2 separate regions of the Homo sapiens genome follow, and region 1 is linked to region 2. A link means that fine-mapping ties the variant in region 2 to the expression of a gene that starts in the linked region. Tissue or cell type: whole blood. Region 2 holds a variant in brackets; the other region holds the start of a gene. All regions are shown on one strand. Distances are between the middles of the regions.

The links. PIP is the estimated chance that this variant, and not a neighbour inherited with it, causes the effect.
Region 1: ULK2 starts here. The variant in region 2 is fine-mapped to the expression of ULK2 in whole blood (TOPMed, PIP 0.98).

Annotation. Positions count from the first base shown.
Region 1 is chr17:19,863,527-19,871,615 of GRCh38, reverse strand. ULK2 (unc-51 like autophagy activating kinase 2) reads left to right here and starts at 3,680. Exons shown (of 27, transcript NM_014683.4): 1 at 3,680-4,288; 2 at 5,788-5,880; 3 at 6,772-6,813. The coding sequence starts at 4,199. RefSeq lists silencers at 3,627-4,216, 4,297-4,476 and an enhancer at 4,055-4,563.
Region 2 is chr17:19,765,623-19,773,724 of GRCh38, reverse strand. ULK2 (unc-51 like autophagy activating kinase 2) reads left to right here. Exons shown (of 27, transcript NM_014683.4): 27 at 1-2,895. Among named protein-coding and RNA genes, the nearest start is that of ALDH3A1, 21 kb to the right of the region's middle. RefSeq lists an enhancer at 6,812-6,961. The variant C/T (reference allele first, on the strand shown) is at 4,194.

The DNA of each region.
Region 1 (8,089 bases), 98 kb before region 2:
ACAGTGTCTCATTTGTCACCTAGGCTGGAGTGCAGTGGTGCGATCCCGGTTCACCACAACCTCTGCCTCCCGGGTTCAAGCAACTTTCCTGCCTCAGCCTCCCGAGTAGCTAGGATTACAGGCGAATGTCACCACACCTGGCTAGTGTGTGTGTGTGTGTGTGTGTGTGTGTGTGTGTGTGTGCATGTGTGTGAGATGGATTTTTGCTCCTCTCATCCAAGCTGGAGTGCAATGGTGCAATCTTGGTTCACTGCAACCTCCGCCTCCTAGGTTCAAGTGATTCTCCTGCCTTAGCCTCCCGAGTAGCTGGGATTACAGGCACACACCACCACGCTCGGCTACTTTTTGTACTTTTAGTAGAGATGGGGTTTCACCATGTTGGCCAGGCTGGTCTGGAACTCCTGACCTCAGGTGATCCACCCACCTCAGTCTCCCAAAGTGCTGGGATTATAGGCGTGAGCCCCTGTGCCTGGCCTATATTAGTAATTAATTTTACCTCTCATTGCAGTTACTGTTTTTCTATTTACTAACTGGTATTGAAACATTTCAACAGTTAAGCATGTTTAGACACACATGCATATGCACACACAGGACAAATTAAGAACAATGAACATGAATCAAATTGGCAATTTCCAGTGATTTTAGAGGTAAACTAGAAATCTGCCCTGGCCTCCATTCTCAAATGAAGCCTAAATTTGACCTAGGGTGAACACTTCCTGGGGTGCCTATGTGGCCCCTGCTTCTGGGGACTCAGAACACCCACAGGCTTGTGTTGGGGGCAGCCATAGTTACATGATCCTGCCTTCCTCAGTCCCATTCCTGGCTTCCGATGATTGTTCAGGGCCCAGCACCCAGCTGAAGTTAGGTTGATCAGAATCCCCTCCTTAAGAATTTGGTGGCTGGGCCCAGTGGCTCACGCCTGTAATCTTAGCACTTTGGGAGGCCGAGGCAGGCGGGTTACCTAAGGTCAGGGGTTCAAGATCAGCCTGGCCAACATGGTGAAACCCCGCCTCTACTAAAAAAGCAAAAAAAATTTTAGCTAGGTGCAGTGGCACGCAACTGTAATCCCAGCTACTTGGGAGGCTGAGGCAGGAGAATCGCTTGAACCTGGAAGGCGGAGGTTGCGGTGAGCCGAGATCGTAACACTGTACTCCACCCTGGGCGACAGAGCAAGACTTCGTCTCAAAAAAAAAAAAAATTTGGTTTGGAGACTGGGGCTGCCATTGCCACCATGTAGGAGATCTCAGGCAAGAGAACAAAGCAGGGGCACAGACGGAAGGCAGTTCTCTTTGAGATCCTGGTTCTGCGGGTAGTTTGCTTTTGAAGCCCAACTTTGAACTCTGAGAAGCACACCTGTATCTTTATCTACATTCTTTATTTTTCACTTTATCACATTTGACGTTTGCTATTTGCTACCAACATAGTCCTAACTAAACATTTTTTAGCAAAGCACCCCCTGCCTCCTGCCCCCACTTCTTTTCTGACTCTTGAGGTCAGAAATCCTGCACATTTTGCTTTTCAAATGGATATGTCCATGGGGCCCATGTTTGGCCTGTGAATACAGGACACGCATGTCCAAACGAAGGGCCTATTGGAGGTTTCTGAAAAATACCTTCATGTGGCCGGGCGCAGTGGCTCACGCCTGTAATCCCAGCACTTTGGTAGGCCGAGGTGGGCGGATCACGAGGTCAGGAGATGGAGACTGTCCTGGCTAACACGGTGAAACCCCGTCTCTACTAAAAACATACAAAAAATTAACCGGGCGTGGTGGCGGGTGCCTGTAGTCCCAGTTACTCCGGAGGCTGAGGCAGGAGAATGGCGTGAACCCGGGAGGCAGAGCTTGCAGTGAGCTGAGATCGTGCCACTGCACTCCAGTCTGGGCGACAGAGCAAGACTCCGTCTCAAAACAAACAAACAAACAAACAAAAAACCTTCATGTGGCTAGGTGAGGTGGCTCACACCTATAATCCCAGCACTTTGGGAGGCCGAAGTGGGCGGATCGCTTGAAGTTGGGAGTTTTGAGACCAGCCTAGCCAACATGGTGAAACCCCACCTCTACTAAAAAAAAAAAAATTAGCCGGGCATGGTGGTGCAGGTCTGCAATCCCAGATACTTGGGAGGCTGAGGCAGGAGAATCACTTGAACCCAGGAGGCGGAGGCTGCAGTGGGCCGAGATCATGCCATTGCACTCCAGCCTGGGCAACAGAGCAAGACTCTGTCTCAAAACAAAAAACAGGCCGGGCGTGGTGGCTCACGCCTGTAATCCCAGCACTTTGAGAGGCCGAGACAGGCTGATCCCTTGAAGTTGGGAGTTTGAGACCAGCCTGGCCAACATGGTGAAACCCCATCTCTACTAAGATACAAAAATTAGCTGGGCGTGGTGGTGCGTGCCTGTAATTCTAGCTGCTTGGGAGGCTCAGGCAGCAGAATCACTTGCACTTGGGAGGCAGAGGTTGCAGTGAACCAAGATTGTGCTACCGCACTCCAGCCTGGGTGACAGAGTAAGATTCTGTCTCAAAAAAAAAAAAAAAAAAAAAAGTAAACAAAAAAATAGACTGTAGAGAATCTTTCAGTGAGGTAAGGAATCATCTCCATCCATTTTTGGGTGTATGTGCAAACTTGCTTAAGTTGCTGTCAACTTTTGAAGGCTCCAGATTTTCAGTGTCTAACACAACCACCTGGGCCAGATGTAAGTAAGGACAGGATAACGTAAGCGTGCACAGTAGCAGAAGCAGAAACTCAAGGCCCTACGTTTTGAGCGTGTGAGGAAGGAGCGTTCTCTCAGAATCCTGGAGCTGACTCTGTCATGGTTCAGAGATCAGCTTGCAGGGACAGGCAGTGGCAGTCGAGGTGGTGACAGACCCCAAAAGCACATACCCTATACAACCGAACACACACTCAAGTGTGGAGCCTGCGTATTCCATGGTAGTTTCAAGCATATTGTTTATTAAATGGTTTCATAAGACACTTCTTTGCGGGAAACCTGACAATCTGTTCCTTGTCACTTGGACAGCTTTAACAATCAGGTAGAAAAGAAAGCTCCCTTCGGCCATGTGAAGTAAGCCCGAGGTCAAACTAGCCTGACACTAGGAGCTCCCAGGAGAACCTTGAAAACGTGTGCGATTCTGAGTCGGTGTGCAGAAACGATTCTCTGCGAAGAGGGCCCTGAGCTGTCACCAGCTTCTCGCAGTCAAGGGACCCCCAAAAGGTGCAGAATCCCGCCTGTCACCGTCCCTCTAGGGATCCTAAGCGAGTAAACCCCGAGAGGCGTCCGAAGGCTGGCAGTTTGGCAGCGTGAACTCTGGTTTTCCAGAGCGCGGGCAAAGCCTGGAGTAGCAGTTGCTCCTTTGCTCTGGCAGGAATCTGGGGGTCTACCCTGCGCAGATAATCCCGTCCTGCCTGCAGCTGGGGTTCAAGACCCGCTTCTCTGAAGTCCGCCTCCCAGCGGCCTGGAGCCCGGGGCGTGGTCGGCTCGAATCTGCTCCCCAGGCCCAGAACGGAGCCCGCAGCCCGTAACCCGCTGTGGCCGCAGCGGGTCGCGCCCTTCGTCCCCGCCTCAGGAGCGGCCGAGGATCTGCCCAGCTGCGGGCGCCAAGCCCTGGCCGCACTCCTTTCCCCGGCGGAGGGAGCCGGCTGGCGCTGCGGCCTTCAAGGCGCGCGGACGTCGCGGAGGGCAGCCAGTCGCGCGGGAGCGGGTAGCGCGCGCGAGGGCGTTGGGCGCCGCCGCGAGGCGGGGAAGCGCGGGGCCGCGGCGGTGCGGGTTCTAGGGCGGCGGCCGTCGCCGTCGCAGCAGCGCCCCGAGCGGGGAGGGCCGAGGAGGCCCGACGAGCTGGGGATGGAGAGTACCGGGCCCCTCACTGCCTCAGAGCGCGTGTGCGGCTCTGGGCGCGCACAGTGACGGTGACGGCACCCCTGGCCCGGCAGCGCCGAGGCCGCTTCGCCAGACAGCCAGCGGCCGGCGGCAGGCCGGGCCATGAGCGGCAGGGGCCGGGCCGGGCCTCGCTGACCCTGGCTCCGCGCGGCAGCTTCCCCAGTTTCCGCTCCGGTCTCTCGGCATGAGAGTCCGCCCGGGCCCGGGGCTGCGGCTGCCCCAGACCCGCCGCACGCTGGCGCGCTCCGGGCCCGCGGAGCCGCGGTGCTGATACCTGCGCCGCACTGCGCCGCCCGCCCGTCCGCTGTGTGCCCCGGGGGCGCGGCCATGGAGGTGGTGGGTGACTTCGAGTACAGCAAGAGGGATCTCGTGGGACACGGGGCCTTCGCCGTGGTCTTCCGGGGGCGGCACCGCCAGGTGAGCGCCGGCCGGGGCGAGGCCGGGCCCCGGGCGGCAGGCACGGGGCTAGGTGGTTCTGAAACTTGGCGCAGCCGCGAGCCGAGACCCCCGACTCGGCTAGCCGCCCGGGTATGCTATTGTGCGCGCAGCCCGTCTCGCCGTTTGTTTTGGTCCTGTGAGGGTTGTTGTGAGGCCCAAGCCTCTGGCAGCGCTCCGCCTACCGACCGGCTGCTGCTGATCCTCCTGTGTGCCCGGGGCCCACCCCGCGGTCCGCCCGCAGGAGCGTTTGCACCCAGGTTACCCTGGACCCAAAATAGACGGTACTGCACCGTGCAGACTCGAGGGTTGGGCGTGAATGGACCTTTGGTTTTTTTCCCCGTGCCCAGGGCTGGTCACTTTTGAGGTTGATAATTACAGACCCAGCGGAAAATGGGCGGATGTCCCATTAGCCTCAGGCTTTCGCAGCCTGGGAGGTGTCACCTTTCCCAGCACTGGTCCCCTGCACCCCGAAGAGCCCCCGTACCGTTTTCCCCCCCGGAGTCAGATAGACGAGCTCCGGGTGAGAAAGGTGGTTGGACAATTCATTTTCAATCACCTTGAACATGAAATCACCTTTAAGCCTTAAAAAAATTGTTTTAAGCCTTTGCTGTTTCGCAAGTACAGTTACACGAGGTTTTAGAATCTAAAGAATTTGGAAAGGCATATCGGGAGTGGAAATAATCTTAAAGGGTGTGGCAGTTCTGATTGTTGCCCAAGGGGCGTGTTAAAAGTGGGCTGACTTTGTTGCTTATCGGATGAAGTAATGCTACTTTTCTTATTTATTTATTTATTTATTTTTGAGACAGAGTCTCGCTTTGTCGCCGAGGCTGGAGTGCCGTGGCGAGATCTCCGCTCACTGCAACCGCTGCCTCCCGGGCTCAAGCGATTCTCCTGCCTCAGCCTCCTGAGTAGCTGGGATTACAGGTGCCCGCCACCACGCCCGCCTAATTTTTTTTTTTTTGTATTTTTAGTAGAGATGGGGTTTCACCACGTTGGCCAGTGTGGTCTTGAACTCCTGACCTCAGGTGATCCGATCTGCCCGCCTCAGCCTCCCAAAGTGCTGGGATTACAGGTGTGAGCCACGGCTCCCGGCCTACTTTTCATTTATTAGGAAAATAATTTAGAACTCAAGCACGGTGTAATCCTTCCAAGCTAACAAATAACTTTTCAATTAACTGTATCACCTTCCAAGTTTATTTCTACATTTGTCCATAACTTTGAAGTGGTTGTGAACTGTTCTTTTTTCATTTAATGTTAGTTACCATGTGGACTTCATATTTGTTATTTTTAGAAGTTGTGTTGTAGGATCTTGGCATATTGCACTATAATTTATGAAATCACTTTCCAATTATTGAAAATAATTCCATTTTTCCCCAATGCCGTACATTTATTTGCCAAAAACACCTTCGCGCTTGTAAATTTTTTTCTGTTATTTATGTGGAATGGTATCTAGGAGTAACACTGTTTTTCCTTTTCAGAAAACTGATTGGGAGGTAGCTATTAAAAGTATTAATAAAAAGAACTTGTCAAAATCACAAATACTGCTTGGAAAGGAAATTAAAATCTTAAAGGTATGTTACTTTATGTAGTAGTATTCATATAAGGTTAAAACTTAATTTAAATGAATACATGCTGCCATCCTTTTCAATTTTGGTAGTTGGGTCCAAGTTTGAGAATTTTCAACTGTTGCTCTCCTTTTTGCATGCTCACTTTTTTAAAACATTGAGTACTCGGAAGCTATTTTTAAGAACCAAAGCTCAGAGGGATTCTGTGAAGACTGAGTTTAGCTTCTCATCATTTCTCTTTTTCCTAGTGACTGTGTTGTTGTTTGAGAAGAGGGCCAGGCAGACCCATCTTGTACATTGTTTTTACCTCTCCTGTTGTCCCCTTTCATGTTACTACTAAGTTTTTTGGGGGGAGTAGGGGTGCTTGGGGTCTTTCTTTAAATTGAAGAAAGTTATATTCCTTGGAGGTGGCCTTTTTAGATCACTCACAACCAGTGTTATCTAAGTGGGATGGTTTGAGAAGATGGTTGAGTACGTTTGGAAAACCCCATTTACTAAATACTTCTTGGAGAGTCACAAAGCCTATGGCTCATTAAAGAAAGTCTGAAAAATTCTACAATGAAGAAACTTGTTTCAAAGTACTTAACCTGGTGTTTTCCAAACTAATACAAGCGTGGAACCCTCATTTAACACCCGATTTCCTCAAAACTGCTTCCTGTGGAGAGCTCTTTTTTAAGAATTGTAGCTCTTTGAGCTAAAAATCATATTTTCTTTCAGTGAGATAATGTGCTTTTTGTTTGATCAGGCACATTTCTTATTCTTTAATTGAATTTTTATAGTCTTAATATAAGTATAATACTAGAAGTGTATGTGTATACTTTAATTTTATTTACATATTAAAATATAGTAAAGTCATTAGAATACTTACATATTTTTCATTCTCAATTTTCTTAATAGGAACTTCAGCATGAAAATATTGTAGCACTCTATGATGTTCAGGTACCTTATTTTGAAAATTTTTAAAAATTAAAATAAATTTTTTTTAATTTCATACAGATTTAAGTGACTCTTAATAGAAATAAAAATGACCTTAATTCTTGTTGAAAAGATGCATAGCTTGAGTTACATGTTTCTGAATTAAGAAATTGTTTAAAACAGAACAGAGTAATAGGCTGAAAGAATTTGCTGCATGAGTAAGTTTATTAACAATTGATAATACACTATAGGTGTAGCATTGTTTTAGGTGAAGTAGAGGACTGTTGATACCAGATCTAGCATTCTCTGATGAATGTTGAAAGGACAATTAAAAATAGAGCTTTTTTTTTTTTTGATGGAGTCTCACTCTGTCTCTTGGGCTGCAGTGCAGTGGCTTGATCTCGGCTCACTGCAACTGCTACCTCCCGGGTTTAAGCGATTCTCCTGCCTCAGCCTCCCGAGTAGCTAGGACTATAGGTGTGCACCACCATGCCCAGCTAATTTTGTGTGTGTGTGTTTTTCATAGAGATGGAGTTTCACCATGTTGGCCAGGCTTGTCTCGAACTCCTGACCTCAAGTCATCCTCCCACCTTGGCCTCCCAAAGTACTGGGATTACAGGCGTGAGCCACTGCGCCCCGCCTAAATAGAAGTTCTTTTTTTAAAAAAACATTTTTTTTATTTTGTAGAGATAGGGTCCCTCTGTGTTGCTCAGGCTAGTCTTGAACTCCTGGGCTCAAGGGATCCTTCTGCCTCAGCCTCTCAAAGTGCTGGGATTACAGATGTGAGCCACCACACATGGCCTACATAGTGCTTTTTCTTCTTATGAAAGCAATATTTGTAAATTGAAAAAATATTAGAAAATAAATTAAAAACAAGGTCACTATGCATGTTCATCACCCAGTTATATCTATGATTATAGGTTATAGATATATTTGTGTATGCTATGGCATGCAGTAGAGTTGCATTTTATTTGGAATGGGAAGTAGGTTCTAAAGTCAATCACTAAGGCAAAATTTCTGTATAGTCAAAATTACTCTTGGAAATCCTTTTCAGATCTCAGCATTGGAGAAAATTGCTGTTTTCTGGGTGTAGCACCAGATGAAGTAGCTGGCTTATATTTAGGGCCATATTATGTTAAAAAATCCTTCAAATGCAAGAATCAGGCTGGGTGTGGTGGCTTGAGCCTGTAATTCTTGCTACTCAGGAGGCTGAGGCAGGAAGATCGCTTGAGCACAGGAGTTCAAGGCTGCAGTGAGCTGTGATCCTGCCACTGAAGTCCTGCCTGGACAACAGAGCAAG
Region 2 (8,102 bases):
CCAGGAGTACTCTGTGCAGCCATCCTGTAACTGCTTCAGTCCAGAGAAGGATAGCATCCATCCCTCCCTCCAGCTCGCCTCTCTGCTGAGGCTTTCTCCTCTCCACTCAGCATTTGCAACAGCTTCTCTCCTGGCACTTGTCTGGGAATATCAAGTTAAAAATTACAACACCCAATTTTGATAACTTTAGTTGAGAGAAACAACCTCTAGTGAAGACTGATAAGTAACTTATTGCCCGTAGTCCCATGTTCCTTTGTCTCCACCAAGAGGAATTACCAGCCCAGCAGTTCTGCCCTCACTAGAGTCCCGTCCAGGAGCTTGAGAGGAGAGGATTTTTAGGGCTGGATTGCCTCAGTCTGCACAGTAATAAGTTGAGTTAGACACAGTGGACATGAGGACCTGGACTCAGATATCTGAAGAATCCTTATTATTTTTTTGTTGGCTTGTTTTGAGACAGAGTCACCCTGTTGCCCAGGCTGGAGTGCATTGGCGCAATCTTGGCTCACTGCAACCTCTGCCTCCCAGGTTCAAGTGATTCTTCTTCCTCAGCCTCCCAGGTAGCTAGGATTACAGACATGCGCCACCACGCTCAGCTATTTTTCGTATTTTTAGTGGAGATGGGGTTTCACCATGTTGGTCAGGCTGGTCTTGAACACCAGCCTCAGCCTCCCCAAGTGCTGGGATTACAGGCATGAGCCACCGTGCCCGGCCAAAATCCTTAATGTTTTTGTTTTTTGGTTTTTTTTTTTGAGACAGTCTTGCTCTGTCACCCAGGCTGGAGTGCAGTGGCACAATCTTGGCTCACTGCAAGCTCCGCCTCCGGGGTTCATGCCATTCTCCCGCCTCAGCCTCCCGAGTAGCTGGGACTACAGGCGCCTGCCACCACGCCCGGCTGATTTTTTGTATTTTTTAGTAGAGGCAGGGTTTCACCGTGTTAGGATGGTCTCGATCTCCTGACCTCGTGATCCGCCCGCCTCGGCCTCCCAAAGTGCTGGGATTACAGGCGTGAGCCACCGCGCCCGGGCTATCCTTAATGTTGATATTAGTGGTTAGCACATGTTTTGGAGGAGGACTTCACACTTTTTAAACTATGCTCCCTCGTATTTTCTATAAGCAGTCTTAAATTCTTTCTGGAATAAAGCAAGATTGATCAGTATTTCTCAAGGAGGATTATTTGGCAGGCAGTAGCTACTGCTCAGAGAACTTGGTATTGTTACATGCATCCTGGAAGTATCTGTGCCTATTTCTAGACGGCCTCAGACCACTTTTTTCTGAGTCCTGGACCCTTGAATCTGCAGCCAAGCAAGCTCTTGGGTCCCTCCCAAGTCTCATGTTTAGTAAAGCCCTGTGAGAATAATTTTATTGGTGGAGGAGTCAAGATGATACTTCCCTCACCTGCATCAGAGGAAACCACATCAGAAACAATCCACCTAGAAAAACACTGCATACGGGAAAGCTGACAACTTGCCCTGAGAAATCACAGCTTTGGTGCAAGAGGTGAAGCCGAACTGGTAAAAGATCAAAGTGAATTCAGAGATCAAACTGTACTAGGGAAAGGAGCAGAGGCTGAGATCTTGCTGCCAGCGTGACCTCTCACAGAGTGGCCCAGCAGAGGCTGTGCAGAGATGGCCAGAGCCAGGACCCAGCCCTGTGGAGCCCCTGGGCACATGTGGTCCCGAGTGAAGCCGTGCCTGTTGCTCTGAACAGGTGGGATCAATCTGTAGGTTTTTCCACTTTTCACAGAGTGTGGCTCTCTTTAGGTCTGCACTCCCTCTCTGCGCAGGGCGGACCTCCCTGGGCTCTGCAGCATGATCTCCTGTCCCAAGACAGTCGTGCTCTTGGACAGTTAGCTTCTGTCATTAGGAAGTGCCCACATGAGCTCTTGTTTATTGGAAACCGTGTTCTATGCCTCCTTTGGGGTTTCTGCAACTCAATTTGGCAGGTAGCTTAGTGGTCCACTTGGTCTCAAATTCCAGCTCCACCATGTGCAGTTGTGTGTTCTTTGGCAAGTTCCTCCCCTCCTCCGAATCTGTCAGTGGGGGAAGAGTGCATGTCTCACAGAGTTGAGGTGAGAAATAAGTTAATGAATATGAAATTCTTTGCCCAGCCCCTGGCACGTGGAAGGGCTCAGCAATCCTGTATCCGTTGTAGTGGTCATCACTCTGTGGCTCTTCACTGCTTTTGTTTTGTTTTGGGAGGGGGTGGAGAACAATTTGTTCTGTGTTTGTGTGGGGCAAGGCCTGTCTTCAGGGCTCTCTCCAACCACGTACGCTCTGGCTGGAGCTTCTGAAAGGACACAGTTCTTGCATAGAAGTTGCTTTCTCCAGCTTGCCCACCAGGCAGTCTGGCTTCAGACATCTATGTTGCCCTTTTAAGTCAATTTGGCTGTTTAAGTGGAATGTTTGTGTCAGTCTGATAATTGTTAATTCATTTGATCCTCATACCAACCCTTACTTGCCTCCTTTTACAGATGGAAAAATCAAACTTGGACAGTAATTTCCACAAGGAAAAGCCCCACAGCTGGAAAGCGGTGGGAGCAGGAGGCCACACTGGGTACAGGAGTACCCATCTCCCCACAGGAGCCCCACACTGTCTCACCCTTAGGAAGCCCAAATGCTCACTCCTTGAGTTTCTAATGCATTCTTTCTGATGTACAGGAAGAGGGGAAGGAAGGAAGAGCTTTTCCATTTGGTGCTCCAATGTCTCCTGCTGGACCCATCTGCCTAGTGGAAGGCAGCAAAATTTCAAGAAACAGGTGAGGTTGAGCAGCTTGGTGCAACCCCATGGGGCCTGGAGTTGGAGCTCAACAGCAATGGATTTCAGAGACCACCCTGAAACTCCCAGTAAAAAAGACTTGGGAGACATGTTAATAAACTCAAGCATTTGATCGACCCACTTTTAAGTGTTCCTGTTTGCTTGTTTTTGCATATGGCAGTGAGATTGAGCAGCAGGGAATTGTTTCAGTGGGAAGTGGGAGGACTCTCAAGTCTAGATGTGCCCAGAGGACCCTCCCCTGCCATAGGCCCTGCCGCCTGCTGGGGCCAGTTCCTTCACTGATGGCAGTAGACATAGCCCCTTTCTCCAGGAAAGCCCTTTAGAGGCTGCCCTGCTGAGGCTGCGTGCACTCCCATTCTCACCTCGGCCTGCCCAGCCTAGCTTTCAGTGCCAGTCCCCTTTGGCTTACGCAGGACGAGGATGGCATGTAGAACCCCATCTCCAGCCACCAAGTCCACCCAGCTGCTGCCTTCTCCTACCTTCTGTCCTATTGTTCCCATCTCAGCCCACATGGGGGCCCTTGTTTACACTGGCACCCCCACCCGCTACTACAGGGAGAGGCTGGGGAAGAAGATAGTGGCTGAGCCTGGCCAGATCTCTGGAAGGCCTCTCCCAAGTCTCACGGGCAATAAAGTGACTTCTTGTCTAGCACATGGATTCCCTTCAGGAAGCAATGATGGGAAACCTACAGCCAGGGCTTCTGAGGGGCCCTGGGTGGCTAGAGGTTATTGCTCCACTTCCTCTGGAAAATTTCAGTGAAGATGAAGATGAGTTGATAAACTTTGGAGCTAAACCAAAGATGACTGATTTAGGTAGGAATTCTCATAAAGAGCAGGAAGAGTGCAGGCTGCTGATTTGATATGGAATGCCTTGTGGTTGGAAAATGGATTTAGTTTCTAGTAGAAACCCAGAATATTTTGAGCACGAACAGTTTTGTTTTCATAAATCCCTTTTACATTCTGAGAAAGAAAACAGCACCCCCATACACCTGTCTCTTTGGGAGAACTTTCCTACAATATGATGAAAGTATGCACAAAAGGTTTGAATACATTTTAAGTGTTTATAAGATGATAAAGATATATCTGTGGGTGTCCAATGGAATAAGTTTTCCTTCCCTATCTGTAGTGTCTGATGGACTTGGAAAATGGGAATTATTTTAGAGGGTGGGTGAGACTTGTTTGTTTGTTTGAGGCGGAGTCTTGTTCAGTCACCCAGGCTGGAGTGCAGTGGTGCGATCTCAGTTCACTGCGACGTCCGCCTCCCAGGTTCAAGTGATTCTCCTGCCTCAGCCTCCCAAGTAGCTGGGATTACAGGTGCCCACCACTAGGCCTGGCTAATTTTTTGTGTGTTTTTAGTAGGGATGGGGTTTCAGCATGTTGGCCAGGCTGGTCTCAAACTTCTGGCCTTCAATGAACCAC[C/T]GCCTCAGCCTCCCAAAGTGCTAGGATTACAGGAGACATTTAATTTTATATTCCATAATGCTGATATTTTTCACCATGAGCTTATATAATTAAAAAAAAATTTTTTTTTTTTTTTTGAGACAGAGTGTCACTCTGTTACCCAGGCTGCAGGCTGGAGTGCAGTGGCACGATCGCAGCTCACGCAACCTCTGCTTCATGGGTTCCAGCTATTCTCCCACCTAAGCCTCCCAACTAACTGGGATTACAGGTGTGTGCCACCACGGCTGGCTAACTTTGTGTGTGTGTGTGTGTGTGTGTGTATTTTTTTGAGATGGAGTCTCACTCTGTCGCCTTGGCTAGAGTGCAATGGCGTGATCTCGTCTCACTGCAACCTCTGCCTCCTGGGTTCAAGTGATTCTCCTGCCTCAGCCTCCTGAATAGCTGGAATTACAAGCACGTGCCACCATGCCCAGCTAATTTTTGTATTTTTAGTAGAGACGGTTTCACCATGTTGGCCAGGCTGGTCTCGAACTCCTGACCTCAGGTGATCCGCCCACAGCCTCCCAAAGTGCTGGGATTATAGGCATGAGCCACTGTGCCTGGCCTAATTATGTAATTTTTAAAAACAAGGTTTTTTTAAGTATAGGAAAACTAAAAGACTAGGAAAGATTTGCAGTAAATTCAACAGATGAAGGGAGGTTAAAGTAGGGGAAAATGTTAGGAGAAAATCCAGAAATTCTCTTTGCTCCTGACAGCCCCACTTCACCAATGGTGAGCAGCAGAGGGGCCTGAAAGGGTAGTGGGTTTGAGAGGCCCTGGTGTCCTGTGGGGCCCTGCCACATGCCCTGGTTGCCTCCTGTGTGCGCCGACACTGACCTGGGTGAGACGCCTCACTCCCTGGGCTTCCCTGTCCTTGTCAGTAAAGCAGAGACAGAAACACAACATGCCTCTTGGGTTTCCTGCAAGAGTTAAATGAGCTGCCGTGGAAAGTGCACATGGCAGTCCCTCCCTGAGGCTGGTGTGGCCAGCAGTGGGAGTAGCAGAGGGAGGCTGAAAGGACACGGGAGGCCTCAGGATCCACTCTGTTGTTTCTCCTCATTGGCCATCAGATGTGCTTCCTCTTTGTCACATCTGTATTTTGGAAACGTAAACCCTCCTTTCCATGGAACATGTGCTAAAATAACATTTCTTAGAAAAATTGGTCTCAAGAATATATCGTTCACTCAGTAACAAAGGAGTCAGCAGTGTGACAAATGTCAATTCAAAACGGACCTGAAAACTGAGGTCTGTTTTGGAAACAGGATGCTTATTACATAAGTAATTTGTGAAAAATAAGTTGCTTATTTTGGTAAAGGTCACAGTTTCCTTTTACGTCTATGGTCATAGAAACATTATATGGGTTGTTACGGAGGAAGTCTGGGGCAGGATGGTCCAAGATAACCAGGTGTGTAGACCAGGGGTTGACAAGCTTTTCCTGTACTGAAAAATACAAATATTTTAGGTTTTGAAGACTGTCTGGTCTCTGTCGCAACTGCAGGAGTCCCACCTTATTCATGAGGTTATGCTCCAAGACCCCCCAGTGGATGTCTGAAACCTTGGAAACTGCCAAACCATATATGTATGCTGTTTTTCTCTATACAATCACATAGTATAGGGTGGATCACATATGCGGCGTGGACATGACAGACAAAGGGAATGATTTGTGTCCCAAGTGGGATGGCAGAAGACTACATCACACTGCTCAGAATGGTGTGCAACTTAAAACTTAGGAATTGTTTATTTCTGGAATTTTCCATTGTTTTCTTTCTTTCTTTTTTTTTTTTTTTTTTTTGAGACAGAGTCTCTGTCGCCCAGGCTGGAGTGCAGTGGCATGATCTTGACTCACTGCAACCTCTGCCTCCTGGGTTCAAGTGATTCTCCTGCCTCAGCCTCCCCATTAGCTGGGATTACAGGCCTTGTGCCATCACGCCCAGCTAATTTTTACATTTTTTGTAGAGACGGGGTTTCGCCATGTTGGCCAGTCTGGTCTTGAACTCCTGACCTCCGGTGATCTGCCAGTCTCAGCCTCCTGAAGTGCTGGGATTACCGGCGTGAGCCACCGCATCCAGCCTTAAACAGAATTTAATGAACTGTTAGTTTACAGCATGCAAATTTTTCTCCATTGGTAGTTTTGGAACATACTTGTTTTTCTGCTGCTTTGAGAAATGAGGTGTTCTACTTTTAATCTTCCTGTGTGTTATTTGGACAAGTTACCTTCCCATCCTGAGCCTCAGTTTTTCCATCCATTAGAGAAGATAAGAGGACTACTACTTTCTAATCCTACCTGTGTGGGGAAAATGCTCTTTGCACAGTGCCTGGCATTTAGCAAGTGCTCAACAAATGGTGGCAGCAAGCAAAGTGAAGCTCTCCCTGCCATGCTGGGATCTGATGCCCCTGTTCCTAGCAACAGCTGCCTACAGTGCCGGGGAGCCAGGCCTTGGGCTGTTGCCCTGTCTCTCAGCAGGGCTATGTAAGCATATTGATTTTTGCAAAACCAAGTTCTGGTTCCTTGCTGTGGGGCTGACAAAAAACCATGGGGTCGATCCTCTATAAATATTTTAGCTATGTCCTCTGTTTTTTAAATACAAAATGTGTACTCTAGCCCTTGCCTGTCTGAATTGAAACAAACTCTTTTGAGGTCATGTGCCTCTGGACCCCCACAGCCACACACTGTCAGCGGCAGGCCCCACCCCTGGGACTCATGTCCCACCTCAGTGCCTTCTCTGCCTTTGGAGAAGGAGCTTAGGTCAGGCCCCACACACCTGTCCAGCCCCATGTGTCTCCCCGACCAGCCCTACTGCCAGCAGCGCCCCGTGGGCTGAGCCAGACCTGGGCCAGCCCTCAACCGGCAGAGGGCGCCCGCCCCCAGGCAGTGAGGCTTCTCAGGCTGCTCCCTGAGAAAGGACAGTGTCTTGCATGGGGAGGGGAGAAGGGACAGTGAGGTAACTTCTTCCCAAGGGGTCGCCAGCAGGGACCCCTTTGAGAGTCTGAGGAAAACCTCAGAAAAGGCACAAACTCACAGAAAACGTGAGAGCTGCCCTCTTGGTGCCCCCCTGTCACTAGATGTTGGGGACTCCCAGCTCCCCGGAAGCCCATCTCCCTTCTTAAGGGAAGCAGTGAGGTGAGTCCTCAAGTCCCTTTTCCCCAAAGAAGCTCTGCTGTCTTGCCCCAAAGATTCCTCGATCCCCTCTTGGGGCTGGTCAGATCTGCCCTTGGCTTGAGAAGGGGCTGGGGAGCGAGCCTGCCCCTAAGGAGACTCGGACCTGCAGAACTAAGGGCCACCCCCAGGAGGGAAGGGCTGCCCTCAACACACGTCCCTTCTGGGGCCTGCCTCTGCTCGGCAGGGCAGGGGGTGCCCCATGTGGAGGACTGCTCTAGATGGGCTTTTGTAGGTGAGAAAGGTAAGACCTCAGGCCTACTAGCGCATAGAAGAAAAAGATTCTGGCCGGGCTTGGTGGCCCATGCCTGTAATCCCAGCATTTTGGGAGGCCAAGGCAGGTAGATCACCTGAGGTCAGGAGTTCAAGACTAGCCTGGCCAACATGGTGAAACCCTGTCTCTACTAAAAATACAAAAATTAGCTGGGTGTGGTGCCTGGTGCCTGTAATCCCAGCTACTTGGGAGGCTGAAGCAGGAGAATCACTTGAACCCAGAGGGCAGAGGTTGCAATGAGCCGAGATCACGCCATTGCACTCCAGCCTGGGCAACGGGAGTGAAACTCCATCTCAAAAAAGAAAAAAAAAAAAAGCCTGCTGCCAGGAGGTCTGATGTGGGGCAGGTGGGGTCTAGGGTAGGAGTTCCCTTCCCTGGATGTTTCCTATGCCAGAGGCTAATGGACAAATTTTGAGAAATTGTGATGTTTGGCTTGATATTGGGTCTTTTTTTCCTGTCA